Linked DNA regions of Homo sapiens: region 2 is linked to region 1. A link means that fine-mapping ties the variant in region 1 to the expression of a gene that starts in the linked region. Tissue or cell type: T cells. Region 1 holds a variant in brackets; the other region holds the start of a gene. All regions are shown on one strand. Distances are between the middles of the regions. Region 1 overlaps SFMBT2 (Scm like with four mbt domains 2). Region 2 holds the start of LINC02648 (long intergenic non-protein coding RNA 2648).

Region 1 (2,913 bases):
TTAACACCATTGGAAAGAAAACAGAGAATCTTCAGGTTGTAGGACAGAGGCAGGACCCACCTGGCACCTGGGCTTCTTGTTACCTTTGTCTCTGGTGTGGAGGAGGAGAGATGGCATCCAGTGGACAGAGGAGTTCATTTTTCAGGGATGACTTGGTTGGTCTGCCTTCCTGGGCCAGCGTGCAGGCAACCCCACTGGGGCCAGAGCATCCTCTCCGTGAGTTCTCATAGCTTGGATCTAACCCTGGTCATGTTGGATTTCCATTCCTCCTGGCCTTAAGTTTTTTTTTTCTTGTTTGTTTGGTTTTTTTTTTTGGAGATGAAGTGCAGTGCAGTGGCACAATCTCAGCTCACTGCAACCTCCGCCTCCAGGGTTCAAGCGATTCTCCTGCCTCAGCCTCCCGAGTAGCTGGTATTACAGACGCCTGCCACCGCACCCAGCTAATTTTTGTTTTTGTTTTGTTTTGTTTTTTTAAATTTTATTAGAAGTGAGGTTTCACCATGTTGGCCTGGCTGGTCTTGAACTCCTGACCTCAAGTGATCCACCCACCTCAGCCTCCCAATGAAGGTGTTTTTTGACCATTCTTATACCTTCTCTTCTGTCTCAGGGCATCCCTCCCCCATTCAGAGACCACCATCAAGGGTCAAGGGTATAACTAGTCCTGATTCCCAAGCAAGGGGCCAAAGGTGTCAGCCAGGTAGATCATGCTTTTCCTTTTTGCACCTGTTGGGTCTTCAAATTCTTTCTTTGGTAATCCCCATTGTTTTCTGTGAGCTGGTCCTTTTCCTACCATGCCCAGGTTGAACTCTCCATCTGCCTGCCCAGCTTGCTGGAAAGGGGCATGTGTTTATGGTCCCTGTCCCATCAGGAGCTCCAGCCTGTTGGCAATTTCTCTCCTGATCCTGCGTTGGCGTCCTCAGGGCTTTGCTCCCCGGGGTCCCCTGAGTGGCCTTCTGTCTCTCCGTGGTTTGGATGCAGTGCCCACGAGCTTGCCTGAGTGCACAGGTATCCCTCTCGCTCTCATGGAGCAGCTTGCAGGGGGCTCTGTGAACTGGTCCCTGTGCCTACTTTTGGGGATCCTGTGATAAGCAGTGTCTTCCTGAGTGCCCCCTTCTCACTGTGGACATCAGAGGCCCCATTCTTTCAGTCTCCACAGAAGTGTGTGTTGAGGCCCATTGAGTGTTCCCAATTACGTTAGCTACTACTAAGAAGAATTTAGAAAGGCCAAACTAGAAGAAAAAAGTTCAGCAGACAGGAAACACTAGAAAGGATTATAGACAATGCACACACGCAGAGGATGTGTGGTTGTGAATTACCCTTTGTGTGTCTTTGTGTAAGTAACAATGACTTCGGGCAGTGCACCGATGGCTTGGCTAGTTCTGGCAGGATCTGATACTTACTGTAATTATGACTGAATAAACTGCGGAAACAGGGGCTTAAAGCTCAAGGTGAGTTCAAAAGCTATGAGGATCAAAATAGATCGCTTCATGCTAAAAAGCAGACATGCAAGAAATTAAAAATACAGTCCCAAAGGTTTA[C/T]TGTTGCTTTTTAACTGTGCTTAATTTCATATTCATATCCTAAGCGTCTGTCTGAAGTAGCCTGGGTTGATATATTGAAGGCATAAACATATCTACTTCCAGTGAGGGCTTCTGCAAATCCTATTTTGATAAGGTCTTAAATCTGTTGAGATCAGGCCATAAAATTCTCCTGCAGTTTCAGCAATAGGTAAAAACAGTGCTCAACGTTTTTTTTTTTCCTTTTAATTTTGCATTCAGACTGTGTAACCTCCATCTGTAAATCTTGCCCCCCCTCCCACTGCCTGGGGAAAAATATGGGCAACATGTGGTGTGTTAAGCAACATTTCAAGTGTAAATATTAAACTTGGTAAATTTTAATTTACCTTTTAATAATTTTCTGACTTACAGGGACTATTTTTAGCAGATGAGAGCTTAGAGATTTAGTGAAAATATGTTGTCATAACTGCAAATGCCAGACTAGAGTCGTTTGTAGTTTAGAAATGTATCAGATAATAAGTTCCTCATCAGTGGGCATTGCTTTCCTAGGTGATAGGTGGAATTTTGGCCCATGGATGACTGAAGGTTTTTGCTAATGTGATTAATACCATTAAATTACTTACAGAATGCCAACTAAATGCATACAAATGTTCCCTGAAGAAGAGCTCTATTAAGTTTATTCTTCATTTCTGACAGCAGAATCCCAAGTTGCTATTTAATTTCAGAAAGTCCTTTCAGCAGGTGGCTGCTCATGGTGGGTATGGGGTGTGAACACTCACGGTCACTGACCGTGCTGAGGTATCAGGAAAGCCTGGGAATTAGCATGCAGGAAAGAGTCACCCGGCAGAACGTGTTAGTCCTTCAACTCTTCTGTGATTTGCTGTTGATACAGAAATCTATCCTTTGAAGATGGCCTCTGAATGGAAATGTACTCTGGAAAAATCCCTTATTGATGCTGCCAAATTTCCTCTTCCAATGGAAGTGTTTAAGGTAAGATGTTGATTCTTAGCAATGTATCTACCCTTTTTGAGAATAAAATCATCTACAAAGTTTTCCGGCCGGGCGCAGTGGCTCATGCCTGTAATCCCAGCACTTTGAGAGGCTGAGGTGGGCGGATCACGACATCAGGAGATCGAGACCATCCTGGCTAACATGGTGAAACCCTATTTCTACTAAAAATACAAAAATTAGCCAGGCGTGTGGTGTGTGCCTGTAATCCCAGCTACTTGGGAGTGTGAGGTAGGAGAATTGCTTGAACTGGGGAGGCAGAAGTTACAGTGAGCTGAGATCGCACCATTGCACTCCAGCCTGGCAACAGAGTGAGACTTAATCTCCAATAAAATAAAAAGTTTTCCATACCAAATCCTTTTCCACTTGAAAAGGCACCTTCTTAACCAGT
Region 2 (2,913 bases), 660 kb after region 1:
CTTCCTTCATGTCAATCAGTAGACTCCATCATATTTTCTCATCATTTAACCACCCCCATGACTACATTCCTCCTAATTCAGTTTAGGAGGATGAATATTCTACAGATCCATAGTGCAACCACTCCCATTGCCCATCCTTCAGATCTCTTGCCCCTTTCATTCTAGGTCCCACCCCCTGGCAAAACACTATCCATTGGTAAACCTGGCTGTTGCAAACCGACAGCCATTTCCACTTGTACTTGACCATGAAAAATTCTTGGTTATTTTGGAAGAGAAAACAGTAGTGTGGAAAGTTCTATGTGAGTGAGGGTTGGCTACTTTCCTGCCACCTGGTTATAATAAAACCAAGTCACAGATTCAACACCACCACGTATTTAGACATTTTTATACGTAATCGTTTATTAGCAGGCAGATGGGGAGGGTTCTGCAAGCTTCGTGGAGACTGAGCTCCCCGACCTTTTAGAGATCTGTCCACATCTTGCCAGAGACTCTCTGGGTCATACACAACATCGCAGAAAGAGGACTCTGTGACCCCAACGCCTGTCACCAGGCAACAAAAAACCGTCTGACTCATTCTAAACACAGGCCCAGATAGGGATGTAATTTGCTATTCTAAGTGTAAGTAATGTCTCTAAAATATTTTAGGCCACCCATACCGCTTTACTACCACTAATCTTTGTAATCTCAGCACTTTGGGAGGCCGAGGAGGGTAGATCACGAGGTCAGCAGTTCGAGACCAGCCTGATTAACATGGTGAAACCCCGCCTCTACTAAAAATACAAAAATTAGCTAGGCATGGTGGTGCGCGCCTGTAGTCCCAGCTACTCAGGAGGCTGAGGCAGGAGAATCGCTTGAACCCAGGAGGCAGAGGTTGCAGTGAGCCAAGATCATGCCACTGAACTCCAGCCTGGGTGACAGAGTGAGACTCCATCAAAAAAAAAAAAAAAAAAATTCCCATTTCCAACAATTGTGTTAATTAATGAGTGTCAAACTTCACAAAGAAAAATGCACTCTTAATATTTATTAAGCTACTTTTTTAAAAAGCCTGGAGTTGACCAGGGATAGAAGGAATCAAATTCCTTGTTGTAAATGCCTATGGAGGATGGACTTTCTGACACCCTGAGAGTGAATTTCTAAGACAGCAACTGAAGGCCCCATGAGCAGACTTCAACTTTCTAATCTGGAGGGAAGTTTTAAATGATGTTCAGGATACAAAAGGCTAAAGATGTGTGACACATAGTACATGCAAGTGGAATTTGTTTCCCTTGTTTAAAACTAATCATATCTTTTTTTTTTTTGAGATGGAGTCTCGCTCTGTTGCCCAAGCTGGAGTGCAGTGGCATGATCTCAACTCACTGCAACCTCCGCCTCCTGGGTTCAAGCGATTCTCCTGCCTCAGCCCCCCGAGTAGCTGGGATTACAGGCGCCCACCACCATGCCCAGCTAATTTTTGTATTTTTAGTAGAGGCGGGGTTTCGCCATGCTAGCCAGGCTGGTCTCAAACTCCTGACTTGAGGTGTTCCGCCCGCCTTGGCCTCCCAAAGTGCTGGGATTACAGATATGAGCCACTGCCCCCGGCCTAATCATATCTTTTTAAGCAATCAATTGTTTCCTAGAGAAAAATATAACTAACTTACCTTTTGAAATTAAGCTCTTCCCTTTTGCTTCAGGAAAAACTCACTCAAACCAGGCTTCTCCTCTGTTCTCACACTAGAACAATAAACACAGAAGACTTCTGTGACCAAAGGTGTGGGAGTTTCTTCTCACCACCAAGCAGTGGACACCAGCTGGGTGTCCTCCAACTGAATTCCAACTCTATCTACCTGGAGATAGTGACCAATCCCATTGGTTGTAGGCTCAGTCCCCAACCCCCTCCTTCCTCCTAGTTGCAAGTCCAAGCCTCCTGAACTCTGACCAACTGGCATCAAGTCAGGGTTTCCACGACTCTCCCTGGGTTTGATTAATTTGCAAGAGCAGCCCACAGGACTCAGGGAAACACATTTACTGGTTTATTCTAAAGAATGTTGCAAAGGACACAGATGAAGAGATGCATATGGTGAGATACATGGGATGGGGTACAGAGCTATCATGTCCTGGGCATGACACCCTCCAGGGCCCTCCACGTGTTCCACTAACTGCAAGCCCTCTGAATTCTGTCCTTTTTAGTTTTTACGAAGCCGTGACTGATTAAACCATTGGTCATTGGTGATCAACTTGACCTTCTTTAATGTGACACATGTGCTGCCTAAAAATTCAATTCTGAGTCAAACTTGAGGTACACACAGATGTCATTGTCAACTGAAGGGCTACAACTTTTTCCCTTGCTCTTGGTGTTTATTAAATAACAGAAAATTTGTTCCTATGTGCGGGAAGTTGCAACTGCAGTGAAGTGTTCATGGTTTCCCTGAGGCTGACAGAGCACTCTCTTACCCAGAAACCCAGGACTCGCCTCCAGAGTGATATGTGAGTCCCATCTAGAGAGTCTGGGGTTGCATGGGGTGCAGGATTCTTCCTCTTCTCTCCAGACTCTGTTCTCAGACTGAGTCAAAGATTCAACGAAACGCTCCCTCGCCTGGTCATGCACTTGTGTTTAAAGAGAGGGTAGGTATGGTTCAGTTTCATTCTACAGTGCTGCCAGGTTCTGCTCAATAAGAATTGAGACTTACTGATGGCCCCAGGCCCAAGCAACAATGGAAACATCTCAAGGATTTCTTTTGCCTCATGGTTTTTTCCAAAACTTTAGTTTTCTTTTAAATCCAAAAACTCTTGACATTTTTGGTGAAAACATTTTCTCCAGGGCTGTGCAGAGGCTTATTCAACTGGTTGATGTTATGAAAAACATCTGCCAATGTGACTAGTGTTAATAAGCCATTCTCCATCTTCAAAGCACTCCAAAAACCTGGTTTTGTGTCA

The links. PIP is the estimated chance that this variant, and not a neighbour inherited with it, causes the effect. A credible set is the group of variants that fine-mapping cannot tell apart.
Region 2: it holds the start of LINC02648, and the variant in region 1 is the best candidate, but not a certain one, in a credible set for the expression of LINC02648 in T cells (TOPMed, PIP 0.82).

Annotation. Positions count from the first base shown.
Region 1 is chr10:7,276,483-7,279,395 of GRCh38, reverse strand. SFMBT2 (Scm like with four mbt domains 2) reads left to right here. Exons shown (of 21, transcript NM_001387889.1): 7 at 2,407-2,504. Among named protein-coding and RNA genes, the nearest start is that of SNORD129, 91 kb to the right of the region's middle. The variant C/T (reference allele first, on the strand shown) is at 1,539.
Region 2 is chr10:6,617,501-6,620,413 of GRCh38, reverse strand. It overlaps LINC02648 (long intergenic non-protein coding RNA 2648), which reads right to left and starts at 1,698. Exons shown (of 6, transcript NR_120634.1): 1 at 1,638-1,698.